3 separate regions of the Homo sapiens genome follow, and regions 1 and 3 are each linked to region 2. The links come from fine-mapping of genetic effects on plasma protein levels. A gene starts in region 2. Each other region holds a variant in brackets. All regions are shown on one strand. Distances are between the middles of the regions.

Region 1 (10,515 bases), 59 kb before region 2:
GTCTTGCAATCTATTTTGTCTGATATGAGTATAGCTACTCTTGCTCTTTTTTGGTTTCCATCACCACAGAATATCTTTTTCCATCCCCTTATTTTCAGTCTATATGTGTCTTTTTAGGTGAAATGGGTTTCTTGTGTGCAACAGATCATCGAATCCTCTTTTTTTCATCCATTCTGATACTCTGTCTTTTTACTGGAGAGTTTAGTCCATTTACATTCAATATTATTATTGATAAGTAAGGACTTACTTCTGCCTTTTAAAAAATTTGTTTTCTGGTTGTTTTGTGGACTTCTCTTTCTTTTTTCCTTCTTTTCTGTCTTCCTTTTAGTGAAGATGATTTTCTCTGGTGGTATGATGTAATTTCCTGCTTTTTATTTTTGGTGTATACATTGTATTTTTTTTATTATAGGTTGCCATGAGGCTTGCAAATACTGTCTTATATCCCATTATTTTAAGTTGATAACATCTTAACACTGTTTGCATAAATAAACAAGCAAAAAGAAAACTAATAGAAACTCTGTTTTTTAACTTTGTGCCCTGCTTTTTAACTTCGTGTTGTCTCTATTTATATCTTATTGCACTACGTATTGAAAAGTTGTAGTTATTATTTTTGATTGGTTCATCTTTTAGTCTTCTACTTAAGATAAGACTTGTTTACATACCACAGTTACAGTGTTATCATACTGTGTTTTTCTGTGTACTTACTACTACCAGTGAGTTTTGTGCTTTCAGATGGTTTCTTACTATTCATAATGTCCCTTTCTTTCTGGATGAAGTGTTCCCTTTAGCATTTCTTATAGGACAGGCCTGGTGTTGATGAAATCCCTCAGCTTTTGTTTCTCTGGGAAAGTCTTTACATCTCTTCATGTTTGAAGGATACTTTTGCCAGATATACTATTCTAGGGTAAAAGTTGTTTTCCTTCAGCACTTTAAATATGTCATGCCACTCTCTTCTGGCCTGTAAGGTTTTCACTGAAAAGTCTGCTGCCAGACATATTGGAGCTCCACTGTATATCATTTGTTTCTTTCCTCTTGCAGCTTTTAGGTTCCTTTCTTTATCCTTGACCTTTGGGAGTTTGATTATTAAATGCCTTGAGATAGTCTTCTTTGAGTTAAATCTGCTTGGTGTTCTATAACTTTTTTGTACTTTGATATTAATACGTTTCTCTAGGCTTGAAAATTTCTCTATTCTTATCCCTTTGAATAAATGTCCTACTCTTATCTCTTTCTCTACCTCTTAAGGCCAATAACTCTCAGATTTGCCCTTTTGAAGCTATTTTCTAGATCTTGTAGGTGTGCTTTGCTTTTTGTTATTCTTTTTCTCCTCTGACTGTGTATTTTCAAGTAGGCTGTCTGCAAGCTCACTAATTCTTTCTTTTGCTTGATCTATTCTTCTGTTAAAAGATTCTGATACATTCTTCATTGTCAACTGCATTTTTCAACTCCAGAATTTCTTCCTAATTCTTTTTAATTATTTCTATATCTTGGTTAAATTTATCTGACAGAATTCTGAATTCCTTCTTTGTGTTTTCTGTAATTTCTTTGGGATTCCTCAAAACAGGTATTTTGAAAACTTTTCCTGAAAGGTCACATATCTCTGTTTCTCCAGAATCAGTCCCTGGTAACTTACTTAGTTCATTTTGTAAAACCATGTTTTCATGGATGGTCTGGATGCTTGTGGATGTTTGCCAATTTCTGGAAATTGAAGAGTTAGGTATTTATTGAAGTCTTTGCATTCTGGGCTTGTTTGTGCCTGTCCTTGGGAAGGCTTTTGAGATATTCAAAAGGACTTGGGTGGTGTAACCTAAGCCATGTCTGCATTAAGGGGGACCCCAAATCCACTAATACTGTAGTTATTGCAGACTCATAGAGGTACCACCTTGGTGGTCTTGGATAAGATCTGGAAGATTCTCTGGATTACCTGTTCTCTTTTCTTATTTTCTCCCAAACAAACAGGGCCTCTCTCTTTCCATGCTGAGCTGTCTGGAGCTGGGATTAAGGTGACACAAGCACCTCCATGGCCACCATCACTACTGTGCTGGGTCAGGCCTGAAGCCATCACAGCACTAGGTCTCGCCCAAGGCTCACTGTAATGACTACCTTTCTACTGCCTATGTTTGGTGAAGGCTCTAGGGCTCTACAATCAGCAGGTGATGACTCCAGCCAGGCTTGTGTCCTTCTCTTCAGGGAAGCAAGTTTTCGACACCCTTGGTAGGTATAGAGATGGCATCTAGGAGTCAGGGACTGGAGTTGAAAACCTTAGGAATCTACTTGGTATTCTATTGTCCTGCAGCTGAGCTGACACTCAAACCACAAGACCCAGTCCTTCCCATTCTTCTCTCCCCTTTCCATAGGCAGAGGAGCTTCATTCCACGGCTACCACCACCACAGGCCCACAGTGAGTCCTGCCAGGCTACCACCAATGTTCACTAAAGGCACAAGGACTCTTCAGTTAGCTTGTGGTGAATGCCGCCAGGCCTGGGACTCACTTTTCAGGGAAGTGGGCTCCACTCTGGTCCAGGGAATGTCCAGAAATGCCATCCAAGAGCCAAGGCCTGGAAATAGGGACCCCCAAGAGCCTGCTTGATGGTTTGCCCCTGTGGTTGAGCTGGTATGTAAGGTACAAGACAAAGTCCCCTTTACTTTTCCTTCTGCTTTTCTCCAGCAGGAGGAGTCATTCCATAGCCACAACAACTGGGAATGTGCTGGGTCTCACTTGAAGCCAGCATGTCTCAGAATCTTACCCAAGGCCCAGAGTGTACTACCTGGGTCTCACTACTGATTATTCAGGGCCCAAGCCTCTTTAGTCAGCAGGTGATGAGGTACTGCTGGAACTGGGTCCTTCTCTTCAAGGCAGCAGTTTCCCTTCTGGCCCAGGGTATGTCTAGAAATGTCATCCAGGAGCTAGAGCCTCGAGTGGGGGCTTCACAATTCTGACTGGTACCCTATCTTACTGTAGCTGAACTTGTATCCAAGATGCAAGACAAAGTCCTTATTACTCTTGCCCTTCTTCTCCTCAAGCAAAAGCAAGAGGTCTCTTTTGGAGCCACGAGCTGTGCTGTCTGAGGTTTGGGGAGGGGTAGCACAAGCCCTGGCTGCCCTGGCTGATGTCCCAGTAGGTCACATGCCCCCCAGTTCCACGGGCTCTGAGCCCAGCTCAGAACTAGGACTTGCCTTGGAGTTGCAGTCCTTGTGGCCCAGATTACATTTCAAGTTTATTTAGGCCTCAAAGCACTTTAGCCTGTGGTGGCAAAGCTTGCTGGAACTCAAATTCCAACTACTGGGATGGGTGATTCCCATCTGGTGAGGGCTCCTCAAACTGCTTCCTCTATAGGTGGGCATCTGCTGAGTTCAGCCTTATTTTGCTTTTCGCTGTGACAGGGGAGCACTGAGGTCAATGCAAAGTCTCACAGTTGCTGCATTCTCCCTCTCCCAAGCACACAGATTCTCTCTCTGCCTCATGTGGCCACTGCCAGGGTATGGGGTAGTGGTGTCAGCAATTCAAGACTGTCTTTCCTATTGTCTTTGGTGCCTCTGTCAGCAGTAGGAAGTTAAAACCAGGTACTGTGAGTGTTCACCTAGTTTTTGGTTCTCACGAAGATGCTTTTATTGTGTAGATAGTGTTAAATTTGGTGCTTCTGTAGGAGGGACAATCAGTGGAGATGTCTATTCAACTATCTTGCTCCTCCCCTCTTTCCAGATCTAATTTTTAATTTTTTATTGCTATACTATGGTTGTACACATTTGGGGGTGCATGTAATATTTTGACACATGTATATAATGTGTAATTATTCAATCATTGTAATTGGGATATCTATCACCTTAAACATTTATCTTTGTGTTGAAAACATTACAGTTCTCTTCTAGCTATTTGGAAATATACAATAAATTATAGCTAACTATCAAATACCAGAAATTACTCCTTCTATCAATCGTATTTTTGTATCCCTTAACCAACTTCTGTTCATCAGTCTCCCCCTACTTCCCTTGCAATGTAATTTCTGACATTCCTGACTGTCATATCTAATCACTTCTAATCAGAATAACAATGACATTAAAAATGTCATTTAGGCCAGGCACGGTGGCTCACACCTGTAATCCCAGCACTTTCGGAGGCCGAGACGGGCAGATCACCTGAGATCAGGAGTTTAAGACCAGCCTGGACAACATGGCAAAACCCTGTCTCTACTAAAAGTACAAAAATTAGTTGGGCATGGTGGCGAGTGCCCGTAATCCCAGCTACTCAGGAGGCTGAGGCAGGAGAATTGCTTGAACCCAAGAGGTGGAGGTTGCAGTGAGCTGAGATCACGTCACTGCACTCCAGCCTGAGCGACAAGAGAGAGACTCCGTCTAAAAAAAAAGAAAAAGCCCTTCAGATTTAGAGTTACTAGTGAACCTTTTCAAAGAATCTAAGTATATATTCTAGATGTGGCACAGAGTGAGAAGTCTCCTTATGTGCTTTATATTAAGATTCTGTCAGTTGATGAATAAATATATGATATTTGTATTACTATAAATATGTCCTATATGTACACTACTATGATTAATGATGACTGTTAAAGCTATTTATTGTATGTGCAAAAAAACTTTTTAATATTTAAATAATAGGAAAATTGTTTCACAGTTAATATAAATATCAATAGTGCATTATTTAGAGAACATTAAGAAAAACATAATTTTTCTGCCAACAAACATCTAATAAAATTAAATAATTGTACATGTCAACATACAAATACCTGTAGCATTTCTATACAACAATATCAAACTAGCTGAAAAGGAAGTCAAGAAACCATTTACAATTGCAACAAAAAAATAAAATACCTAGGAATAAATGTAACTAAGGAGGTGAAAGACATCTATAAGAAAAATTACAAAACACATTGATGGAAGAAATTGATGACACAAAGAATTGGAAAAACATCCCAAGCTCATGAATTGGAAGAATTAATATTGTCAAAATCACCATACTGCACAAAGTAATCTAAAGATTCAGTGAAACCCGAGCAATAAATATCAGTGATATTCTTCACAGAAATAGCAACAACAATCTAAAATTCACATGGAACTAAAAAAGAGCCCTAGTAGCCAAAGCAATCCTGAGCAAAAAGAACAAAGCTTGAGGCATCATGTTATCTGATTTCAAAATATAATACAAGGCTATAGTAACAAAAACAGCATGGTGTTGGTATAAAAATAGACCTGTGGAAGAGAATAGAGAACCCAGAAATAAAGCCACATATTTGCAGCTAACTCATCTTTGACAAAGCTGACAAGAATTTACACTGGGGAAAAGACATCCTCTTTACTAAATGGTGCTGGGTAAACTGGATTGCCACATGCAGAAGAATGAAACTGAATACCTATCTCTCACCATATTAAAGAATCAACTCAAAATGGATTAAAGACTTAAATGTAAGACCAAAATCTATAAAAATACTAAAAGAAAATCTAGGGAAAAGTCTCCTGGATATTGGCCTAGGCAAAGAATTTGTAACCTCAAAGAACCTCAAAGTACAGGCAGCAAAAACAAAAATAGACAAATGGGA[T/C]TTAATCTAACTAAAAAGCTTCTACACAGCAAAAGAAAAAATCAACGGAGTGAAGAGACAACTTGTAGAATGAGAGATAATATTATTCATCCAACAGAGGACTAGTATCCAGAAAACACAAAAACATCAATACAAAGAACACAAATACAAAGAACAGCAAAACCTCCTGAAATAATCCCATTAAGAAATAGGCAAAAGATCTGAATAAGTACTTATCAAAAGAAGACATACAAATGGACCAGGCATGGTGGCTCACGCCTGTAATCTCAGCACTTTGGGAGGCCAAGGTGGGCGGATCACCTGAGGCTAGGAGTTCGAGACCAGCCTGGCCAACATGGTGAAACCCGTCTCTACTAAAAATACAAAAATTAGCTGGGCGTGGTGGTGGGCACCTGTAATCCCAGCTACTTGGGAGGCTGAGGCAGGAGAATCACTTGAACCCAGAAAGTGGAGGTTGCAGTAAGCCAAGATTGCGCCACTGCACTCCAGCCTGGGTGACAAAGTGAGACTCCATCTCAAAAAAAAAAAAAAAAAAAAAAGACATACAAATGGCCAGCAGTTATATGAACAAATGCTCAACACCACTAAGCATCAGAGAAATGCAAATCAAAACCACAATGAGATATTATCTCACCCACTTTAAATGACTATTATTAAAAAGTCAAAAAATAACAGATGTTGGCAAGGATGCAGAGAAAAGGGAACTCTTTTTTTTTTTTTTTTTAGATGGAGTCTTGCTCTGTTGACAGGCTGGAGTGCAGTGGCACAATCTCAGCTCACTGCAACCTCCGCCTTCTGGGTTCAAGCGATTCTCCTGTCTCAGCCTCCCAAGTAGCTGGGATTACAAAGATGCACCACCACACCCAGCTAATTTTTTGTATTTTAGTAGAGATAGGGGTTCACCATGTTGGCCAAGACAGTCTTGATCTCCTGACCTCATTATCCACCCGCCTGGGCCTCCAAAAGTGCTGTGATTACAGGCGTGAGCCACCGTGCCTGGTTGAAAAGGGAACTCTTATACACTGCTGTTGGAAATGTAAATTAGTATAGCCATTATAAAAAACATTATAAAGGTTTCTTAAAAAATTAAAAATAGAGCTACCATATGATACAGCAATCCCACTACTGGGTATTTATCCAAAAGAAAGGAAATCAGTATATCAAAGGGATACTGGCACCTCCATATTTATTACAGCACTGTTCATGATAGCAAAGAGATAGAATCAACCTAAGAGACCACCAACAGATGAATAAATGAATAAATAATATGTGGTGGCCGGGCACAGTGGCTCACACCTGTAATCCCAGCACTTTGGGATGACAAGACTGGTGGATCACCTGAGGTCAGGAGTTCGAGACCAGTCAACATGGAGAAACCCTGTCTCTACTAAAAAATACAAAAATTAGCCTGGCGTGGTGGCACATACCTGTAATCCCAGCAACTCGGGAGGCTGAGGCAGGAGAATTGCTTAAACCCAGGAGGCAGAGGTTGTGGTGAGCCGAGATTGCGCCATTGCCATTGCACTGCAGCCTGGGCAACAAGAGCAAAACTCCACCTGAAAAAAAAAAAAAAAAAAAGAATATGTGGTATATGTGCTATATGTACACAATGGAATATTATTCAGCCATAAAAAGAATGAAATCCTGTCCTTTACAGCAACACTGAATGGAACTGGTGTTCATTATGTGAAGTGAAATGAGCCAGGCACAGAAAGATAAATGTTGCATGTTCTCACTCATAGGTGGAAACTAAGAAGTTGAACTCATGGAAGTAGAGAGTAGAACAATAGTTACTACACATTGGAAAAGGTCCGGGAGAAGAATATAGGGAGGTTGGTTAATGGGCACAAATACACAGTTAGACAGAAGGAATAAGTTCTAGTGTTCCATAGCACAGTAGGGTGAGAACACTTAACAATAATTTCTTGTATATTTCAAAATAGCTAAAAGAGAAGATTTAAAATGTTCCCAACCCAAAGAAATGATAAATGTTTGAGGTGAGGGATATCCTAAATACCCTGATTTGACGATTACACATTGTATGCATGTATCAAAATATCACATGTATCCCATAAATATGTATAATTGTTATGTATTGTGATGGTTAATATTTGGTGTCAACTGGATTGGATTGAAGGATGCCTAGATAGCTGGTAAAGTATTGTTTCTGGGTGTGTCTATAAAGGTATTGCCAGAGGAGACTGACATTTGAGTCAGTGGACTGGGAGAGGGAGACACACTCTCAATGTGGGTGGGCACCATCCAATCTGGCTGCCAGAATGGCTAGAACACAGCAGGCGGAAGAAGGTGGGATATAAGCTGGCTTGCTGAGCCTTCTGGCTTTCATCTTTCTCCCCTGCTGGATGCTTCCTTCCATTCCTCCTGCCCTTGGACATTAGATTCCAGGTTCTTTGGCCTTTGGACTCTTGGACTTAACACCAGTGGTTTGCCAGGGTCTCTCAGGCCTTCAGCCACAGACTGAAGGCTGCACTATTGGCTTCCCTGCTTTTGAGGCTTTTGGACTCAGACTGAACCACTACTGATGTCTTTCTTCCCCAGCTTGCAGACGGCCTATCGTGAGACTTTGCCTTGTGATCATGTGAGTCAATTCTACTTAACCCATTTATGCCTGAGGTTGCAATTTTTTTGTGTGAAAAATCAGACCTTGGTGATGACCTTGTGCTCAAGGATATAAATAACTCCCACATGCTTAGCATTCCAATAATGGAACATTAGGCATATGTAAACTCCCTTCCAGATATACATATATCCTATTAGTTCTGTCCCTCTGGAGAACCCTGGCTAATGTATGTATCAATAAAAGTGTTGCTTGTTAAAAATTAATTATACGACACAGAGTAATAGATTAGATATCAAAGTGATAACTTTTACAGAATTTTTTATATGCTGGCATTCATTGTATTAAACATAATGAGCTCTAATAGCTGTATTTTACTTAATTTAGGCTACTATGCTTTTAGAAACTAGTTCTACAGGGATTCATCAAAGCAGAATGGAAAAGAGAATGTCAAATATTATCACCTCAAAATTTGACAAAGGAAAAACTTCCAAATCATATGTCACAATCATGATAAATTGTCATCAATCTGAATATAATACATTATTATAATATGTATAAAGAAATAAAGAAATTATTAAGGAAAAATGAAGCCACAGCTGAATAGCTAGCTCTTCCTCTCACCTCAGTTGAAAGTGAGGGTTTATAGAGTATCGTAAATAAGTGGTATAGCAATCATAAAAGCAATCAAGCAGCTGGCAGTGCTAATAAATTCCTGTTTCTGCATGAGAATATAAAACTTTTAAAATTTGAATATTAAACTTTCATAATATATTTGTAATAATTATTAAACTATTTTGGGTGAAACTTCTAATTTTCTTCCTGCAGTGCATTTCATGATACTATTGTAAACCTCATCTTCTACTTTGAGAAAATACTATGCTTTAATACTTGGCCATCTGCTATTAGGACAAAATGTATATTTGGTGTACCTCTAGAGACCTTTTACTAAATGGTCACCTCTAACTTTAAACTTCAAGCTTTTCCAGGCATAGTTCATTCTACTTCCAGGGCCACCTTGCCACTGGTATAAATTCTCTTTCCACGGCTCAAAATTTATATCAAGATTCTTATTTATTTATATATTTAATGGGTACAACATGGTGCTTGGATGTACATATACACAGTGAAATAACTACTACAGTCAAACAAATGTAAATATTCATCACTTTCCATAGTTACCTATGTGTGCTAAGAGCACCTAAAATCTATTCTGTTAGCAAATTTTCAGTATACAATACAATATTATTAACCATAGTCTCCATACTGTATTTTAGAGCTCTAGACTTATCATCCAATTTAACTGCAAATTTGTACCCTTTGACATACCTCTATTTCCTCCCCCTCCTTACCCCTGGTAACCACTGTTCTACTCTCTGTTTTTATTTAAAACTCCTAGAAGAAAACATGGGAAGAGCTCTTTGATACTGGTCTTGGAAATGACTTTTGGCCATCACCCCAAAAGCACAGTGACAAAAGCAAAAATAAACAAGTAGGATTACATCAAACTAAAAAGATTCTGCATAGCGAAAGAAATAACAAAATGAAAAGGCAGCCTGCAGACAGGGAGAAAATATTTGCAAACCATATATCTAACAAAGGGTTAATATCCAAACATATAAGGGACTCACACACCTCAATAGCAAAAAACCCTCAATAATTCAATTTAAAAATGGGCAAAGGAATGAAGTAGACATTTTTCCAAAGAGGGCATATGAATGGCCAACAGTTATATGAAAAGGTACTCAGTATCACTAGTCTTCAGGGAACTGCAAATCAAAACCACAATGAGATTATCACTTCACCCCTGTTAGGATGGCCATTATAAAAAAGTCAAGGAATAAGTGTTGGAGAGAATATGGAGAACAGAGAACCCTTAGACACTATTGGTGTGAATGTAAATTGGTATAGCCGTTATGAAAAAAAACATAGATTTTCCTCAAAAAATTAAAACTAGAACTACTATATGACCAGGCAATCCCTATGCTGGGTATATATACCCAAACAAAAGGAAATCAGCACTTTGTAGAAATATCAGTGCTTCCACATTCACTGCAGCATTATTTATGATGGACAAGAAATGGAATCAACTTATGTGCCCATTAATGGATGAATGGATAGAGTAAATGTGATATATATACACAATGGTATATTATTCGGGCTTCAAAAAGAGGGAGGTCCTGCCATTTGTAACAACACGGAGAACCTGGTAGACATTATGCTAACTGAAATAAGGCAGGCAAAGAAAGACAAATACTGCATGATCTTACTTATATGTGGCATCTAAAAAACTCAAGATTCCCTTTAAAAGTCCTCTTCAATGCTCCCCACATCTGTGTTGACTGAAAATGTATCAAGTTGATCCTGAAATAACTCCTTCACTGCTTCCCA
Region 2 (10,460 bases):
CACACACATACTAAAATGAACAAACTAGCCACAAGATTAAAAATTATGGCTCAGGAGTCATGCAGCTAAAGGCTACAAGATTCCTAACCTTCCCAATTGCTCCTATAAATAATGTTACTATTGCAAAACCTAAATTTGTGTTTGAAGTTCACACATGAACACAGTCTCACATGTGTGCACACACACATTTTCTTGTTCCTGCCCCTACCTCCAAAGTGGAGGTAGCAAAAATTCACTGTTGTCTCAGAAAGTTAGATCTTGGCAAATAAATATTTGCTCACATAAGTCAAGCATTGCATTTCCCCCTGGCTGCTGAGCCTGTTCTCACACACACAGGGAAGTCAGCTGCAGGGCAGGATGCCATTTCATAGGTGAACATGTCACATGGAATTAGACCACTTTTTCCCAGGTCCTGCTGAACCTGCACCTAGTGAAAAAAAAACTACTATGTCTGCTGCAATACACTGATACCTTGATTAGTGAATTCCTGAAGAACTCATGTATAAGAAATGGGAGAGTCCACTCATTTGTTTTCATTTATTAAAAAATACCCTTATTCTGTGAAGCAGAATTACCTGTATTTGCAGCTGCATGACAAAAATGCCTCAATATAAAGCTCCCCCCAACCCCCACCCCCCGCCCATTGGCTATTTTAAGATAAGTTGGCAATAAATTTAGGCTGAGTTAGAATGTAAATATGAAATAGACTGGTTCCTCAGATGTGAGGCATAGATAGGCACATTACATACTTTGGTAGCATAGAGGAAGGTACCAGGTATGATGCAATGGCAAGGGAGATTTTCTGGAGGAATGTTGCCTGGCCAGTCTAACAGAGGTGTTAAGATCCTAAGCACTAGTTCTACTGCCAGCAAGCCATGTGGTTTGGGGCTAGTTTCTTAACTTCCCTAAACACCAGCTGGTTCACTTGCAATGAGGGTGATAATATTTGCTCACAGTTTTGTATTCCTTGGCTTTCAAGAAATTGCACAATCCTCTTTCCTTTCCACTACCTTCTCCTTTCCCTTTCTCTGTCATTTGTACTTTCTAACGTGGGGCTCCTCAAGTCTCACACCTTGGGCTTCTCTATTTCCACATGCTATGCTCCCTTGGTTCAAACCTTGCCTGCAGTCACATCTCTACCCACTCCACCTCAATCTTGCCTCCGTTTCAATCGCATGCTGGACATTTCCACGTAGACACTCTGCCAAGGCATTTGAAATTCAACAAGTGTAAAGCTGAATATGGATAGTTCTTTTAAATAGGGCTGCTAATCTCACAAACTCCAAACTTCCGAGTCCTCTTCAACATCTTTTTCCCCACTGTTCCTTATCTAATCAGTTGCCAAATTCTGTGGCTTATTACTTTGAAACTTGTTTGGTCAGAGCAGGAATGGAAATTCAAAAGTCTATAATAATTGTGTCAGGAGTTTTACAGAGCAACAGGACTGGAACTCCTTAATATAGATTTATTAATTTTAAAACTAAAAGACATTTTTGTTCTCTAAACACCTGGACTGTTGTAATTAGCTAAATTGGATCTTTGCTTACACAGCCATTCCCATTCCAGCATCTTAGATGCAAATTCCAAATTACCCAGGTGCTTCCTCCTTACAAGTGTCAACCGTCCTTTAATGCTTCTGAATGGTGTAAAAGGCACAGGCCTTGCCTTTAAGGCTCTCTCAAATCTCTTTCCAGCCTCTCTTACCCTCTTGTTCCATTGCCATTGCCTCAATTCAGTTCTCCATACTCTCCCTAAACTAAACTCCTTACTATTCCTGGAATCAACAGGACTGACCCCAAACCTTTGTTCGTATCTCATCTCTTTTCCTATTTTTGCCCTATTGCATTGACACTTGTCATATTTAGTTGAATCACTGGGCCTTTAGCCTTCCCCGCTCCAATTACCACACTCCCTTCTTTCCTTTCTGAAGCCCCATACCACTTTGGTTGTGATATTTGTATAGCATTTATCATGGAAAACCTCCCTACTAGATTGTAGATTCTCAAACACAAGTATTGACACTTAGTGGGTTTCTGTATACTAGGGAAGTTTATTAAACAGTCTTTGATTTAGTCATTGTATGGTTCCTGGGATAAGAGTAAGAACCGTGGTCCCTTGCTCTGTCAAAATCATAAACCTATTTTCTTTGTATTTTGACTTAATTACATAAGCTTGTTTTGGATTGGAAGGTCTATAGAGACTATTTTAGTGCCAAATGCTATTTAATCAATGCAGAAATAAGCCCTTGAGAGGTGCAGTGACTCAGCTGAGGACACACTGATAGTTTCTGGTAGATAAGTATGAAGCCTTGGAACTACTTCTCATATCATAAGCCCCTGGGTTCCCAAATCACCTCCCCAAGTACCTAATTCATCATCCTCTGCATACAAGAAATTTTTGCTCATTCCAATAAAAAGAATGTAGTACGGCAGGACAGGAGAAGTACAGGTTTTGGAATCAAACTAGGTTTAGATTCTGACCTGGTCGCTAGTTAGTGCATGGGCTTTGGTAAACAGCCTCTCAGCCTGTTTCCTTGTCTGCAAAATATGGATAGTTATCTTCACTTCATGAAGTTGTGTTGGTGAAATGGTATAATGTGTATAAAGCAACTGGAACACAACAAATGAGGCCATTTATTTAAAATAATCTTTAGTAAGTTATAAATTCACATATTTGCTTTTTTCTGAGGAATGCTTAGATTTTATCATAGATCTCTTTTCTAAATTGAGTAAATACATAGTGGATTTCTTTGTTTCCTTCCCCTCAGAATGTTGAAATTTGGCTGATTGTAACTATTACTTAAGACTCTATCCAGTAATTGTTCGTAAAATTTCTTTTCTTTTTTTTTTTTTGAGACGGAGTTTTGCTCTCGTCCCCCAGGCTGGAGTGCAATGGCGCGATCTTGGCTCACTGCAACCTCCGCCTCCCAGGTTCAAGTGATTCTCCCGCCTCAGCCTCCCAAGTAGCTGGGATTACAGGCACCTGCCACAACGCCCAGCCAATTTTTGTATTTTTAGTAGAGACGGGGTTTCACCATGTTGGCCAGGCTAGTCTGGAACTCCTGACCTCAGGTGATCCTCCTGCCTTGGCCTCCCAAAGTGCTGAGATTACAGGCGTGAGCCACCACGCCCGGCCAAAATTTCCTTTTAAAAAAAGTTATTGCCAATAACTAAGTATGCTGGAAGGTGAATGCTTAGGACATTTAGTGTCACTGAGCTGTGTGATAGAGATAATATTTTTGACACTTTGCAGAGCTCATTGTTTTCTCTCCATATAAAGCTATGACATTCACATAATAAACATGTAGAGAGCTTTAACAGACTTCAATGTTAAGTCTTCTAACAGCTGCATAACTGGTCTTGCTTGAACCTGTCTTTTTCATAATGCTACCTTGCCTTTCACACCAATTCTGTGAGCCCAAGCAGGAATGAAGATTACCTATCTCTAATGGCAGGACAGAAGGGAGTGGTGGTTAAGGTTACTGGAGGTTATTGGGGGAATAAATGAAGACCTCATGCCACTTCTAAACACTGCCAGGACCTAACATACCTTGTGTTTTTATATCCAATATGGGAGTAAAGGTTAGATATTTTAACATCAAATATGAGGATGACACTAGATGGTTTTAAAAGCCCCCCACCATAACTTCTAAACTCCACAATGTTCGAATATTGTTAGGTTTCAGTGAAATCCTACAGTAGTCCCTTGCTTGGAATCACTGTAGGATTGGCTCCAGCAATGGGCAACACAAGGTTTGGTTCTATACAGTAGGTATGGGTCAAAGAAAATGCTATGATTGAAAAATTGCTGTTTTCCTCCTCAAAAAGCTCATACCAACCAGGAAAGAGCTATCAGAAAACCTTCAGGAAAGAATATAATGATAGGATATAACAAATACCCCCACAGCTGGTCCATAGACCAAAGTATAATTCCAAGTAGGGAATTTCACTTAACGAGGTAAGGCATTTAAGGGAAAAGGAATCTAGGCTAGGACTCTGCTAGCCAGACCCAGATAAATTATTACAGGGAAGCATGTTCTTGAGGCTATTCTCTATGAAGAAGGGCAACCCACCTTGCCATCTATATCCTTTCTGTTTTCGACAGGGGTGGTCCTAAGCTGGATAGATCTTTACTCTGACCAGTACCATATAGGTCTGTGGTTCTCAAACCTGGCTGCACAGTGTGGCACTTTAAGTAATCCTGATACCCAGTCCCATCCCCAAAGATGCTGATTTAATTTGTCTAAGGTGCAGTTTGGGCCTCTGGATTGGAACCAACCCATATACCCATCAATGATAGACTGGATAAAGAAAATGTGGCACATATACACCATAGAATACTACACAGCCATAAAAAAGGATGAGTTCATGTCCTATGCAGGGACATGGATGAAGCTGGAAACCATCAACCTCAGCAAACTAACATAAGACCAGAAAACCAAACACTGCATGTTCTTACTCATAAGTGGGAGTTGAACAATGAGAATACACAGACACAGGGAGGGGAACATCACACACGGGGGCCTGTTGGAGGGTGGGGGTTAGGGGAGGGATAGCATTAGGAGAAATACCTAATGTAGATGTTGGGTTGATGGGTGCAGCAAACCACCATGGCACGTGTATACCTATGTAACAAACCTGCATGTTCTGCACATGTATTCCAGAACTTAAAGAATATATATTTATATATGTATAAATATATATGAATATATAAATATAAATATATATATAAGCTCCCCACGTGATTCTAATGTGTGGCCAGTCTTGCAAACCTCAGGCTATTTATTCTAAAGGGTTTGTAACAAGCCTTCCTCTTAAAATCCACCCCACCACCATTCAGCGTTTTGGGGTCTGTTTGTTTTTATTGTTATCCCACCCCACACCGCCCCGAGGCGCGCGCGCGCGCGCGCACACACACACACACACACACACACACACATACACACACGCACACTGGTGAATTTCTCTCTACAGTCAGTCTGGAGTAATCCCAAAGTGGTGTCTTTCGTAAATAAGGAGAACCCGGGTGAAGAAAATGACTCCCACCCGAACAAGGCATGAACAATGTTCACTCCCTACTGTGTTATTCAACCTGTTTCCCCAGGTCTCTGTTTTCACATTAGAGAGTGTTCTAGGAGATGACGCCCTTCCTCCTTAGTTATTTCCCCACCCTCGTGCTGGCCTTTGACAGACCTCCCAGTAGAGGGCCCAAGACGCGGGTAGAGCACCGCGTCTCAGCGCCTGAGTCTCAGCCCCCGAACTCCACCGCACCTGCAGGTCCCCTTGGCAGCACTCAAGCGCGGGGATGCTCCGCTTAGACGAACTCACGTGCGGGCAGCAAGGCCTGCGATACTTGAGCACCCCTCCCCCTCTCCCGTTTACACCCCGTTTGTGTTTACGTAGCGAGGAGATATTTAGGTTTCTAGAAGGCAGGTCATCGCAGGCCCCACCCAGCAGTGGAGAGAGTGAGTCCCAGAGGGTGTTGCCAGCGAGCTCCTCCTCCTTCCCCTCCCCACTCTCCCCGAGTCTAGGGCCCCCGGGGCGTATGACGCCGGAGCCCTCTGACCGCACCTCTGACCACAACAAACCCCTACTCCACCCGTCTTGTTTGTCCCACCCTTGGTGACGCAGAGCCCCAGCCCAGACCCCGCCCAAAGCACTCATTTAACTGGTATTGCGGAGCCACGAGGCTTCTGCTTACTGCAACTCGCTCCGGCCGCTGGGCGTAGCTGCGACTCGGCGGAGTCCCGGCGGCGCGTCCTTGTTCTAACCCGGCGCGCCATGACCGTCGCGCGGCCGAGCGTGCCCGCGGCGCTGCCCCTCCTCGGGGAGCTGCCCCGGCTGCTGCTGCTGGTGCTGTTGTGCCTGCCGGCCGTGTGGGGTGAGTAGGGGCCCGGCGGCCGGGGAAGCCCCTGGGCTGGGTGGGAGGTCCAAGTCGGTCTCTGAGACACGCACAGGGGCCGGCGACTTGGCAGGTGGGGAGCTTGGCCCGCGGTCGTGGTTCCCGCCGTCCTGTGCCTTTAAGGCTCTCGCCGCTCACCAGCATTTGGGGCTCCTGCTGTGTCGGCCCCCAGCTGACTTGGCTTTAGGGGTCGGCGTGGAGGGTTAAAGAGGCCCCGGCTGGGTTTGCGGAGCAGCCAAGCCTGGCAAAATCGAAAGGGAGGGCTCAAAGAGACTGTATCCTTAACCCCCAAAAAGCTGGTCTAAAAGGATGGGAGGCCAGACCGCTGACCGTTCCCCACTCTCGACAGAGTCCAGCCGTGTGGAGCACACGATGCTGCAAACTTGCATGTCATCTCTTTCAGGTGTGGCATTTCAAGGGGGCTTGTGTCTTGAAAACAGCAACTGTGAGGACACTTGATAGTCATTTCCTTCAGTTCTGCTTTTGTCTCCCTAGGTGACTGTGGCCTTCCCCCAGATGTACCTAATGCCCAGCCAGCTTTGGAAGGCCGTACAAGTTTTCCCGAGGATACTGTAATAACGTACAAATGTGAAGAAAGCTTTGTGAAAATTCCTGGCGAGAAGGACTCAGTGATCTGCCTTAAGGGCAGTCAATGGTCAGATATTGAAGAGTTCTGCAATCGTAAGTTCTTCATCTTTTTAGAAAAGTTCTGGGAATGGAATGTATCTTAAATTTATTTTTATATACCTTTGGAGTGACTAGTAATTGATAGTTCTCTAGCGTTACTAAACCCCAGGGTATACCCTGTTGGCACGTCACACTCCAGCTAATTGAAGACATTTACCACCCTGAGTAGGTCCTGCTGCTTCATTAAGAGTTTTTCTTCCTAACACTGTACCTCTTGAACGAACTAGTAGAGAAAATAAACAATAGGTATTGTTTAGGGAGTAAACATATAAAATATATTTGGCAATTGCCTTGAGACACATAGCGTAAATGATATGTTTTCTTAAGTATTTTATAAAGTAGGACTTACCAAATACAACTCTGTGGTGGCATTTTTAAAAGCTCTCAATATTTACTTCAAAATCTGTTATACTTGTACATATTTATAGGGTACATGTGATATTCTGGCACATGCATACAGTGTGTCATGATCAATCAGGGTAATTGGATAGCCAGTACCTCAAACACTTGGTGTTTGTGTGGAGAATATTCCAAATCTTCTCTTCTTGCTACTTTGAAAAAATATATGTATATATATAAATTGGGATATATATATAGGGAGAGAGATATATATAATTGGGATATATATATATAAGGAGATATATAATTGGGATATATATAAGGAGATATATATAGGGAGAGATATATATATATAGGGAGATATATATATATAGGGAGAGAGATATATATAGGGAGAGAGAGATGTATAAACTGGGATATAGACAGGTAGATAGGTTGATTGTTAAAAATGAATAAGAGGCCCAGTGAAGAGTTGTTTGGGGGCTAACACAGTAACCGTGTTTGATACTGATACCTAGTAGAATTAAAAGAAATGAAGATTTCTTGTTTTAGGTGAATATACATACAGTCATCCACACCTTATGTGCCCTTTGATTTCATAAAATATATATTGGCATTATCTTGGAGGAAAAAAATCTGTTACTTACATAGCCCTGTATTAGCTTTGAGATATATGAGTAGAGATAAAGATAAAGAGACCCGATAACCTGACTTTGAACAACTTAAATCAATAGAAGCTACTGTAAATACAGAAATTGGCACAAATACCTTTAGAAGCCATGCGTGAAATAGGCTTTAACTTTTTATTTTTATCCACAATAGAGGCAGTAGGATGAAGTACATAGTCTTTGCACATGTATCATGTTTTAACTCTTCCCCATGTTATTACTTTATCCAATCCTCCAAACAACCTTATGAGGTAAGTTGGGGCTCTTACACTCTTTTTATGGCGGAGGAGACAGACCCCAGTAGTTTAATAACTTCCTCAAGAGCAGCAGCTTTTACGCCAAAACCAAGGTGTAAACTTGGGTCTTCTGACTACAAATCCAATGATGACCCTTCCACTTGACCATGCCTCTCTAGATTCACATTTGTGGGCAATCTGTTTACAGATGTAAATACTTTATGTATACAATTTGTGGGCAATCTGTTTACAGGTGTAAATACTTTATGTATACAATTGACTCATCCTTGCCCCCAGGGCTCATGGGAATTAAATGAGTTTGTACGTAAATAAATATTAGCTGCTATTATTGTTGTGCAGGACATTAGTCCAGGGGTCTGGAAATACCCTATTCCTGTACTGTATGGTGCTGTGTAGTTCTTTAGGGCAGGGTAAGGAAACCAACATTTATTGAATGCCAGAACTGGGCCAGGCAACTTAAATTTTTTTTTTTTTTTAAGTGGGGATAGTGATATGTGTGTACCAACTCTACTTCCTAAGCCTCTAGTAACTAGGAAACAAAGTATACATGTGAATACATTTGCTACATTGCAAGTGCCATGGTGATATTAATATAGTTAAGTACTAAATATGCGCAAAGCAGTAAAGAAAGGGGGTTATTAGGGTCCAGATAATTAAATATAGATTATAAAACAAAAATTGATACTACATTTTTTGTTGCTGCTTTTGTTAATACTTTTAGGTAGCTGCGAGGTGCCAACAAGGCTAAATTCTGCATCCCTCAAACAGCCTTATATCACTCAGAATTATTTTCCAGTCGGTACTGTTGTGGAATATGAGTGCCGTCCAGGTTACAGAAGAGAACCTTCTCTATCACCAAAACTAACTTGCCTTCAGAATTTAAAATGGTCCACAGCAGTCGAATTTTGTAAAAGTGAGTAAAATTTTTTAAAGTATTTTCAACCATCTGGTGTTTGGGGGAAATAGTATCCCTTCCTTCATTCATGCTAGAACTCTATGTGTATATATTATTATATAGGATGTTTCTTGATAGGACCATGAGTGTCAATTTATTTTGAATTAGACTAAATATTTATGTGGTAGGAATACTTATTCATTCAAAAATTTCACATTTAATTAGTTTGAGGTTACCTAAAATAAAACAAGTATATATTCTAAATTCGTTGCTTTTTCAAAACTTATTATAAAGAGAAATTAGAATTAAAGAAGTCTAAGGGTCAGGCATGGTGGCTCATACCTGTAATCCCAGCACTTTGGGAGACAGAGGCAGGTGGACCACTTGAGGTCAGGAGATTGAGAGTAGCCTGGCCAACATGATGAAACCCTGACTCTACTAAAAATACAAAAACTAGCTGGGTGTGGTGGCGCATGCCTGTAATCCCAGCTTCTTGGAAGGCTGAGGCAGGAGAATCCCTTGAACCTGGGAGGCAGAGGTTGCAGTGAGCTGAGATTATGTCACCGCGCTCCAGCCTGGGCAACAGAGCAAAACTCCATCTCAAAAAAAAAAAAAAAAAAGTCTAAGGATAAGAAATATCAATGGTTCAGATGATGAATTTACATATATGTGCTTGATAATTTTTTCAAAATTTTTACCTGAGCTTTATTGAGGTATAATCGACAAATATTATCTTAGGTGTACAACATGATGTTTTGATATATGTGCACATTGTGAAATGATTAACACAGTCAAGCTAATTAACATATCTACCACCTCACATAGTTACCTTCTTTGTGTGTATGCCTGATAATTTAATTTTAAAAAATCAATTTGTATTCTATTCTAGAGAAATCATGCCCTAATCCGGGAGAAATACGAAATGGTCAGATTGATGTACCAGGTGGCATATTATTTGGTGCAACCATCTCCTTCTCATGTAACACAGGGTAAGTTTGGGCATACTAAAACCCTGTATTTAGGAAATGAGAAAACAAATTAGGACTTAAGGTGAGATTGTTAGTTTCATGACTGGTATTCACAGCTAGTAGCAATTAAAACAATCCCTCTCCTCAAAGACCCTTCATCATGAGCTCATCACAGTTAAATTTAGTAAAATGGGGGCAAGAAAGGAAGATTTCTTAAACCACCAGAATTCTCTAAATTCTGATTTCAGTAAATATGTGATTCAATATAAAATTTTAAATGTGATTAATAAAAAAATTTGAGATGATGATACTTGCAGAAATCTTCAAATGTTAAATACTAAACCAATCTTTAGTTGACCTAAATAATGAATTTGCATGAGTTTTTCTATATGCAAACAAGCTGTTACAAAACAGCATGAGTTAAAGACATTCCTAGTGTGAAAGTATTCTAAGTTCTTTGATAAGTTCTCTGTATAGGGAGAAGGAACTCATTCATTGAGTACCATCAATGTCTCAGACACTGTTGAAAACTTTACATTTATTTTCTCATTTCATATCTGTAAATTAAATAATTCTATTTTACTCTGTGTGTGTCCCTATTCTTTATAAAGTAAAAATATCAGTATCACTTGTCTCCTATACGAAACACAGATATTGGTTAGGTCATGAACACAAAATCTGGGAAGTACTTTGAACCCTTTAAATATAAGTACATTCTATTATTCTGTGAAGCCCATATTTAGAA
Region 3 (10,515 bases), 27 kb before region 2:
CATTTATTAATAAAACTGAGCATCAACTATGTGGATTCTGTAGGACTGGGCATATAAAGTGAATTAAGTACACATGGCTTTTATTCTCACTGAACTTAAAATCTTGTGGGGAATTTGGACAAGTAAATAGGAAATCAAAGCTCAGTGCTTTGATGAAAAGGTATAAAGATCATGGGGTCACTTGACCTAATTCAGGGGATCAGAGAAGACATCCATGAAGAAGTGGTACTCACACAAAGTCCTGAAGAATGAAAAACAATGCATATGCAAAGGCCAGGAACTGGTACATTTAAGGAGCTGAAAGTTCAGAAGTTCTAATGAGCTCAAGTGAAGAATGCTTTAAATTTATATCACACCTTTCCCTCTAGAAAACTGAAGTGCAGAGGGACAAGACATAAAAAGGGGAAATCCAAGTTCACATGATGGCTAAACTAGCAAGAAGCTCACATATTTTGTCTTCCAGATCAGTTCTTTTTCCACTAAATATTTGTTTCTGTGTTTCTTTCAAGGCCAAGACCTTCTTTCCTCATTAAGTCATGAAAACCTGTTAATGCAGGAAATACATGCATGCAAGCATTTGATGTAGTTTATTTCTCCCTAAGTCATTCATATATTTCTATGCTGTAGTAAAACAGTGTTGCCTCTGATAGTTCATCCTTAAGAAAGAGAAAAACAGAAGTCCAAGTATGTTGGCTGGAACTCTGCTACAGTAAGTTGGCTCTCTACATGTGGGGAACAACCTCACAGTCTGTGAGCACATACCCCTGAATGTGACTTAGGCAAAGCTGGTTATTGGATGGAAATCAGCATTTAGAAGGCTTTTGTTTTGCTTATCTACATAGCTTCAATGAGGAAGGAGGAAATGAGACTATAAGTACCATGACCATATAATTTATTATCCATACTAGAACACTTTAAGAATGAAAAAGAGGACTCTTAATAATTATGCAAAGAAAACTGGTGCAAACTGGGACCACCCAGGTAAATTGGGACATATGATTATGCTATCTATAACTAAAACACCTTTACAGATTTACACATTAATGTTCAAGGTTTCCCTTTTCTTTGCCTTTATTCTAGATCATTTTTTATAGAAGATGTTCTGTAAATAGTTGATGTTCAAAGAGTCATCTAGAAAGCAGGAGAGCCACTTCACCTTCTCTCATCCCTAGAAAACTGGGTCTTAACATATAATTACAACATTTGTAAATCCTGGCCAACTGCACAATCAATTTTCTTGAGCCTATGTAACTACCTCACAATTTTCTTGAGCTTACATAACTCCCTGACACCTGGATCAGCACTGTCCATTAGAACGCTGCAATGATGGAATGTCATATATGTGCTCTGTCCTACATAGTAGTCACTAGCCACATGAGTCATTGAGAAATGGAAACATGGCCAGAGCAACTGAGAAACTATATTTTAAATTTTGCTTAATTTTTCTTAATTTAAAAATAAATTTAAATAGCTACATGTGGTTAGCAACTAACATAGTAAACATCTCTAGATCACTGGAAGTAAAAAGAGGCACCAGTTGATATGGCTTGGCTGTGTCCCCACCCAAATCTCATCTTGAATTCCCCTGTGTTATGTGAGGGACCCAGTAGGAGGTAATTGAATCATGGGGGTAGGTCTTTCCCATGCTGTTCTCAGGATAGTGAATAAGTCTCCTGAGATCTGATGGTTTTAAAAAGGGGAGTTTCCTTGCACAAGCTTTCTTCTCTTGTCTGCTGCTATGTGAGATGTCCCTTTCACCTTCTGCCATGATTGTGAGGCCTCCCCAGCCACATGGAACTGTAAGTCCATTAAACCTCTTTCTCTTGTAAATTGCCAGGTCTCAGGTATGTCTTTACCAGCGGTGTGAAAACAGACTAATACAGTAAATTGGTACTGGTAGAGTGGGGTGCTGCTGTAGATACTCAAAAATGTGGAAGCAACTTTGGAACTGGGTAACAGGCGGAGGTTGGAATAGTTTGGAGGGCTTAGAAGAAGACAGGAAAATGTGGGAAAGTTTGGAACTTCCTAGAGACTCGTTGAATGACTTTGCCTGCCCCAAATGCTGATAGTGATATGGACAATAAAGTCCAGGCTAAGGTGGTCCCAAACAGAAATGAGGAACTTGTTGGGAACTGGAGCAAAGGTGACTCTTGTTATGTTTTAGCAAAGAGACTGGCAGCATTTTGCCCCTGCACGAGAGATTTGTGGAACTTTGAACTTGAGAGAGATGATTTAGGGTATCTGGCAGCAGAAATTTCAAAGCAGCAAAACATTCAAGAGGCGAGTTGGGTACTGCTAAAGGCATTCAGTTTTAAAAGGGAAACAGAGCATAAAAGTTTGGAAAACTTGCAGCCTGACAATGTGATAGAAAAGAAAATCCCATTTCTAAGAAGAAATCTAAGCAGGCTGCAGAAATTTGCATAAGTAATGAGGAGCTGAATGTTAATCCCCAAGACAATGGGGAAAATGTCTCTAAGGCATGTCAGAGGTCTTCACAGCAGCCCATTCCATTACAGGCCTGGTGGTCTAGGAGGAAAAAGTGGTTTCGTGGGCTGGGCCCAGGGTCCCTGTGCTGTAGGCCCCCTAGGGACTTGATGCCCTGTGTCCGAGTCACTCCAGCCATGGCTGAAAGGGGCCAACACAGAGCTCAGGCCATGGCTTCAGAGTGTGCAAGCCTCAAGCCTTGGCAGCTTCCATGTGGTGTTGAGCCTGCCAGTGCATAGAAGTCAAGAATTGGGGGTTCCCAAAGGAACCTCTGCCTGATTTTCAGAGGATGTATGGAAGTGCCTGGATGTCCAGGCAGAAGTTTGCTGCAGGGGTGGGGCTCTCATGGAGAACCTCTGCTAGGGCAGTGTCGAAGGGAAATGTGGGGTCAGAGCCCCCACACAGAGTTCCTACTGGAGCACCACCTATGGAGCTGTGAGAAGAGGGCCACAGTCTGCTAGACCCCAGAATGGTAGATCCACCGACAGCTTGTATTGAGAGCCTGGAAAAGCTGCAGACATTCAATACCAGCCCATGAAAGCAGCCAGGAGGGAGGTTGTACCCTGCAAAGCCACAGAGGCAGAGCTGTCCAAGACCATGGGAACCCACCTCTTACATCAGCATGACCTGGATGAGGGACATGGAGTCAAAGGAGATCATTTTGGAGCTTTGAGATTTGAATGCCCCACTGGATTTCAGACTTGTGTGGGGCCTGTAGCCCCTTTGTTTTGGCCAGTTTCTCCCATTTGGAATGGCTGTATTTAACCAATGCTTGTACCCCCATTATATCTAGGAAGTAACTAACTTGCTTTTGATTTTACAGGCTTATAGGTGGAAGGTACTTGCCTTATCTCAGATGAGACTGAACTGTGGACTTTTGAGTTAATGCTGAAATGAGTTAAGACACTGGGGGACTGTCGGGAAGACATGATTGGTTTTGAAATGTGAGGACATGAGATTTGGGAGGGGCTGGGGTGGAATGATGTGGTTTGGCTATGACCCCACCCAAATCTCATCTTGAATTCCCACGTGTGGTGGGAGGGACCCAGTGGGGGGTAATTGAATCATGGGGGCAGGTCTTTCCTGTGCTGTTCTTGGGATAATGATAAGTCTCATGAGAACTGATGGTTTTAAAATGGGGAGTTTCCCTGCATAAGTTCTCTTCTCTTGTCTGCCACCATGTGAGACATGCCTTTCACCTTCTGTCATGATTGTGAGGCCTCCCCAGCCACGTGGAACTGTAAGTCCATTAAACCTCTTTTGTAAATTGCCCAGTCTCAGGTATGTCTTTATCAGCAGCATGAAAATGGACTAATACACCAGTGAATGTCACTAAGATAAAACCAGAAAAGCTTTCATTTACTTTTTGTCCCATTTAGATGTACACAGAGCTGGGATCCTAGTAGGCCAAGGTCTCAGCCTTTACCTTTGTTTGACTCCACCTCAAGGATCAATTTCATCTCTATTAAATATAGAGAAAGGAAAGAACATAAAATATATATCAAATCAACACCATTTGATTCAAGCAGAACATTGATATGTTAATCCATTTTACTTGAAACACCATAGTAAGTATTTATACTAGTGGGAACAGTAATGAACATAATCACAGGACTTCATTCCATGGTGTACAATGCATTAAAGAAATCCACAGCCTGG[C/T]CAACATGGCAAAACTCCATCTCTACTAAAAATACAAAAATAAGGCAGGCATAGTGGTACACACTTGTATTCCCAGCTACTCAGGAGGCTTAGGCAGGAGGATCACTTGAAAACCCAGGAAGCAGAGGTTGCAGTAAGCTGAGATCATGCCACTGTGCACAAGCATGGGTGACAGAGTGAGACTCTGTCTCAAAAAAAAAAAAAATTCAAAATTTCTAAAGAAAGTCCTACTTCTGCCAGAGCCTTCAATAAAGGGATATTAAGGCCCCAAAGCTCTATCTTCAGCATTTTGTATTCCTCTTAATACAAAAAGCATAAGGCCCAAAGCAACTGATATCGGATCTCCTTATCAAATGTTTCCTTTGTTCTGCCCTCTCATTAAACTATTTGTAACTCCTCTATGGCTCTTATTACTTTCCGTTTTGTATTAGCTGTGTAACTAATACAAAAGAGCAAAAAGTGGACACTGTGGTAGACAGGTATAATTTTACTTCTCCTACTGAAGAGTAAGTACTATAAGGACAAATACAGTTCATATACCTGTACTATATTTTCTACAACGCCAGGCACAGTTCTTTACACACAGTAGATGCTCAGGAAATGTTTGCTTGTTTATTTGGAAACATTTTGTATTAGTACCTCACATTGTGTTAAGAATTAAGTTTCTGGAACCTGAAATGAGATAAAATATAAATTCTTAGGCAACAATGTAAATTCTTATGCAGATAGAGTAACTGAATATAAATTTGAGGGTGTGGTAAGACTGATTTTTTTTTTCTCTTAGGATTGCAAGCTGATATAATTATATTGGAAAGCAATATAGAAATTTGTATCAAAAGGCTTGGCTGTAATAATTTTGTATTTGAGACTCCATTCCAATTATTTTTAGACTATTATATTGAGGTTATGAATTGACATACAAAAAGTTGTACATATTTAACATATACAACTTGATGAGTTTGGAGAGAAGGATATACCTGTGGAGTCATCACCATAATCAATTTCATAAACATATTCATCATCTCCAAAAGTTTCCTCCTACCCTCTTTATCATTATTACTTGTACGTGTGTGATAAGATCACTCAACATAAGATCTACCCTATTAGCAAGTTTTTAAGTATGCAATACAGTATTGTTAACTATAGGCACTATGCTGTACCACAAATATCTAGAGTTTATCTTGTATATTTATCCTGTACTTACATTTCCACCAACCAGAGTACCTGAAACTTTGTACCCTTGACTAATATACTTCCCCATGACCCCCAGCCCTTGGCAATTATCCTTCTACCCTATGCCTCTATGAGTTTGACTATTTTAGATTTCTCATATGAGTGGTACCATGCAGTATTTGTCCTTTTGTGTCTGGCTTATTTCAATTAGCATAATGTTCTCCAGGTTCATCTATGTTGATGAAAATGACAACATTTCCTTCTTTTTAAAGGCAGAATAATATTCCATTGTTTGTATATGCCACATTTTATTTATCCATTCATCAGTCAATGGACATTTAGGTTGCTTTCATGTCTTGGCTCTTGTGAATAATGCTGAAATGAATGTGGCAGTGCAGATATCCTTTCAATATCTTGATTTTAATTCCTTTGGATATATATTCAGATGTGAGCTTGTTGGATCATCGGTAGTTCTACTTTGAATTTTTAAAGAAACCTCCATACTGTTTTCCACAGTGGCCATTCCAATTTACATTCCCACCAACAGTGTACAAGGGATTCCTTTTCTCCACATCCTTGCCAACACTTACTATCTTTTGGTTTTGTTTTAAAAATAGCCATCCTAATAGGAATAAAGTGATATCTCATTGTGGTTTTGATTTTTGGTTCCCTGATGATCAGTAATGTAGAGCACCTTTTCATGTACCTGTTAGCTATTTGTGTGTTTTCTTTGGAAAAATGTCTATTCAGTTCCTTTGTCCATTTTTAAATTGGGTTCTGTTTTTGCTATTAAGTTATAGGAGTTCCTTATGCATTGTGGATATTAACCATCTATCAGATATATAGTTTGCAAATATTTTCTTCCAATCCATCCATAGGCTGCATTTTCATTTTGTTGTTTCTTTTGTTGTGCACAAACTTTTTCATTTGGTGTAGTCCTACTCGTTTATCTTTGCTTTTATTGCCTGTTCCTTTGGTATCAAGTCCAAGTAATCATTGCTAAGACAAATTTCATGAAGCTTTTTCCCCAATGTTTTCTTTTTCTTTTTCCCCAATGTTTTTAAAGTTTCGAGTCTTGTATTTAAGTCTTCAATTCATTTTGAGTTAATTTTTGTGTATGATGTATCCACCAATGAAATAATTTAAATACTAGGAAATATATATACAGGATGTTCATCTCTGCCTTGTTTATAGTAGTGAAAAACTGGAAACAACTTAAACATCCAACAAGAATGATTAATAAATCACTGACCAGCTAGAAATAGACTATTATACAACTATTTTAGAAGAGGTTTTATTTGTTTAAGAATGTTCACAATATTAAGTAAAAAAAAAAAAACGAGAGAAAAAAGTTGGGAGGAAATACAGCAGGATACTGAGTGGTCACTTTTGATGGTACAATTAGGATTGATTTTCTCCCTCAGCTTTTCTCTTTATATTTTTCAAATTTACTTACTGTCAATAATACGAAACCCACATTAGTATGTAATACGTGATTTTGACACTAATTGATTCCTCTATTTAGAGGTAATTCTAACTAGCAGAGACTTAGGACAAAAATCAAACTTTTAGACAGCTAAGCACACCTAGATTAAAGCATGTTTTTTCTTTTCTTTTTTTTTTTTTTTGAGATGGAGTCTCGCTCTGTCGCCCAGGCTGGAGGGCAGCGACGCGATCTCGGCTCACTGCAAGCTCCGCCTCCCGGGTTCGCGCCTCTCTCCTGCCTCAGCCTCCCGAGTAGCTGGGACTACAGGCGCCAGCCACCACGCCCGGCTACTTTTTTGTATTTTTAGTAGAGACAGGGTTTCACCGTGTTAGCCAGAATGGTCTCGATCTCCTGACCTCGTGATCTGCCTGCCTTGGCTTCCCAAAGTGCTGGGATTACAGGCGTGAGCCACGGCGCCCGGCTGTTTTTCTTTTTGGTAGAGGGCATGAGAGGTAGCTGGCTTGCCACATGCCGATCCAACATCCTGATTTTTCATCAAGAGGCTGAATAGCCAAGATTTTTGTGGCTAGATGAATGAGAATTGGTCAGAGGTGAGTTCCAAACAAAATTATTAAAAATATTCACACAAAAATGTATCTTAATGTTTGTACGATTAATTTTTAAATTGATTTTGTAAAAGCATATATTAGCTCTCTTAGGAAAACTATAGTCAATGCAATAGGATTTATTTATAGCCTATAAATATGGCTATATTCATATCATTATGTGAAACATACTCCAGCATAAGTCATATATCTTCATACCTCTCTATGACAAAACTTCGATTGCTTTTCTGTCCACCAGATTTAAAAAGTGGTCAGTATTTGTGTAGGACATAGGTGAAAAGAAAAAGAAAGTAGCAAGTGGAGAAAGGGAAGTTTGGGAAAGTCCAGATGTAGGTGATGTTGTAGCTCTCTGACAGTCTATTTGGGAGTCAGAATCGGTGTGAGTGCCAAGTTCACTACGCATAGCTTTGCACATAGTAGACAAGTGATAAGTATTAAATGAATCAAAAGCATAGGGGGTTCATAGTTCACCTACTCAGAATATATTCTTTAGAGTTTTTGTTCAGATGGATTCTACCTTTTCTAAAAAGGGGCAATTGAAAGAGTAACAACTAAAAAGGAACTAAATATTGTAGAAAAATCTGAGAAAGGGATAAACACAGTCTTTTCCTGGAGGATTTGCCATTTAAAGCCACAGCTGTTTTTAATGCCAAGTATCCTTGGTGGCCAGTGCCTAGTGAAAGTGTAGAAACTACAGAGAGCAGGATTCAAGTGCTCCCTGAGGGCATGGCTTGTAGCTTTCCCTTCATTATGGAATCAAGCCTGGAGAGCCAGTCTCTTGTTTGAGCTCATTGGTACTGCTCGCCAGAGAGGGACAGAAGAGATAAGAGGATCTGAAGAATATAAAATGGAAGATACGTGGATGGTGATAAAATTTAAGGGATTTAGTGATTTACAAATTCATGCCTTATTTGGATATGAAGAAAAAAGCTAGAGAACATAGTTTAGGCCAGTAACTAGGCTAAAGAAAGGAGTAGAATATAAGGTTGAATGAAATTTCCTGTGCAGTGCCCAGGGACTACGAGATATATAATAATTTTCCAGTTCTCTCACAGTTGGTTTTAATATTATCAAAAGGCTCACTCTTTCTTTGCTTTCTCCTGAGTTTTCCTGCACTCATCTCCTAGGTCCCTCGGGGAAATGCAATGGTTATTATAGTTATGCCTAACATTTCAAAATCATTTTAACTTAATCAAGCATGTTTGCATGGAAAAGTAAAGGCTGTGGTGCCAGAGAAATTTGAGTCTGGTCCCTACTCCACTACTTTCCAATTGTGTGTTCTTGGGCAGCTCCTCAACCTCTCTGGCCCTCAGCTTCCTTAGGTGGATCAATGCTATCAACTTCTAAGGATTGTTATACACAGTAGCCTAGTACTTGGTGTATAGTAACAACATAGTCAAGTTCAGTTGTTACCAAATGCTCTACAGATGTTATGTTTTGGGCTCTTTATTTTCAACTTAATATAGGTTCTTGCCTTCAAAATCAAGGTGAGACCAAAAGGTATGCAAATGCAGTGTAGCAAACAAGCCTAGACAATTAAAAAACAAAACAAAAAACCTGAAACAGTAAGACTAACATTGAATAGCAAAGCAATTTAGTGAAGAAAGAGGTTATGAGAGTGAGACACTCTCAAACCTCCTCTTTCTTTTTATGTTAAGTTCTGGGATACATGTGCAGGATGTGCTGGTTTGTTACATAGGTAAACGTGTGCCATGGTGGTTTGCTGCACCTATCAACCCATCCCCTAGGTATTAAGCCCAGCATGCATCAGCTCTTTTTCCTGATGCTCTCTCCCCATTGCCGCTCCTGCCCCCAAGCACCAGTGTGTGTTATTCCCCTCCCTGTGTCCATGTATTCTCATTGTTCAGCTCCCACTTATAAGTGAGAACATGCAGTCAAACTTCCTGTTTCATTTGGACCTCTCTACAATTCTGTGATAGAGGCAGGGGAAGTGATCAACGCATTCAACAAACTGGAAAAAGCAAAGCACAGATGGGTTTCAGCTCCATTACAGCTGCTATAAAATGAAATCATAGGATTAAGAAAATTTTAAAGTTTCTTTTAAGGCTGTAATTCTATTATTCTTTGGCTTTCCTAAAGTAAGCCTACTAGTTAATGTGAGATCTGGTACCAGAACTCGCATTTCTTGATTCTCAGCTCAGGACTTTGTGCTAGACTGGGAAGTGTTGGGGACATAAGAGAACCTCGTTTCAAAGAAAAATGAAAATCGCAGCTGGGCAGAAATGCCTTCCTTCCTTTTCTATTGGCAGCATTTTAATACAAGCTTAAAATGTCAATAGAACAGCTTTGGCAATGTTTGCTGAAACATACTCATGCCTGAATAATGATTTCCATCTTCACACATTAGTACTTTCGTTCTTCAAACTGTACCCAGTTCCTGCATACTTACTGCTGCTTGATCAGTTGAAACTCTTCCATACTTAAGCCTTTCCTCATGCCAGAAAAACCACAGCTTTCCACCTCTTAGACTTACTTCATTTCTTTTGAGTTGTTTACTCCATTATTACAAAAAGCCAATCATGCTTTGCAAGATAAATATTTACTCTCAGAGTTCCACTCTTCTTTCAGAAGACAAAATAGACACCTTAGAAGGAGAGCAAATAATGCATGTAGAATACTAACAATGGAAGCCACATATTTCTATTTGTGGGCACATAAGTGCATATATGCCTCTGGTGTGCTTTGTGGTTGACTTCTTTAGACTCCAATTTGATCTGAAGTCCAAAGTAGCCTCAGCTCTCTGAAGACACTGGGGCCTTATTTTGTTTGAAGAGACAATGCCATGGCAATGTGGTGCTTGCCTGGTTACAAGGACTTCCACAGAGGCCACATATTCCTGGCAAGATGTTAGCGGGTGCTGAATTTGAAATAACTATAGCATCTCTACAATTTGATCCTGCATGCTTTTATTCTATGAATCTGGTTATATATAGTAAATCCCTATTATGTGAATAAGAGGGAACTATACTTGACTAACTGTTTAGAATGCTAGATAAATTACATTTGCAATAACAGGTCGCTTTTATATGTGCCCAGTCATCTTTTTAACTCATTTCCTGCAGCTTGCTGCCCATGCTCATTTAATTTTACATAAACATGCTCTTTGAGGCTGAAGCAAATCTGACT

Alleles and levels. Alleles are on the strand shown, and positions count from the first base shown. The strength of an association depends on the size of the effect and on how common the allele is.
For the plasma level of the protein whose gene starts at base 5,693 in region 2, C is the low allele of the variant in region 1 and T is the other (strong association).
As copies of C replace T in region 3, the plasma level of the protein whose gene starts at base 5,693 in region 2 goes down (moderate association).

What was found. A credible set is the group of variants that fine-mapping cannot tell apart. PIP is the posterior inclusion probability: the model's chance that the variant is causal. Protein levels are from antibody-based Olink assays in UK Biobank. Linkage for the fine-mapping came from a reference panel and not from the study's own genotypes, which makes the PIPs less certain.
Region 1: its variant is the best candidate, but not a certain one, in a credible set for the plasma level of the CD55 protein (UK Biobank, PIP 0.52).
Region 3: its variant is the best candidate, but not a certain one, in a credible set for the plasma level of the CD55 protein (UK Biobank, PIP 0.63).

The regions. Positions count from the first base shown.
Region 1 is chr1:207,256,892-207,267,406 of GRCh38, forward strand. All of the region lies in intron 2 of LINC02942 (long intergenic non-protein coding RNA 2942), which reads left to right. All of the region lies in intron 1 of LOC107985251 (a long non-coding RNA gene), which reads right to left. Among named protein-coding and RNA genes, the nearest start is that of LINC02942, 22 kb to the left of the region's middle. The variant T/C (reference allele first, on the strand shown) is at 5,547.
Region 2 is chr1:207,315,986-207,326,445 of GRCh38, forward strand. It overlaps CD55 (CD55 molecule (Cromer blood group)), which reads left to right and starts at 5,693. Exons shown (of 10, transcript NM_000574.5): 1 at 5,693-5,880; 2 at 6,397-6,582; 3 at 8,574-8,765; 4 at 9,637-9,736. The coding sequence starts at 5,781. It overlaps LOC107985251 (a long non-coding RNA gene), which reads right to left and starts at 6,144. Exons shown (of 3, transcript XR_007066838.1): 1 at 5,701-6,144. RefSeq lists enhancers at 599-1,428, 5,119-5,328 and a silencer at 5,889-5,968.
Region 3 is chr1:207,289,111-207,299,625 of GRCh38, forward strand. The region is part of intron 2 of LINC02942 (long intergenic non-protein coding RNA 2942); the gene reads left to right. The region is part of intron 1 of LOC107985251 (a long non-coding RNA gene); the gene reads right to left. Among named protein-coding and RNA genes, the nearest start is that of CD55, 27 kb to the right of the region's middle. The variant C/T (reference allele first, on the strand shown) is at 4,144.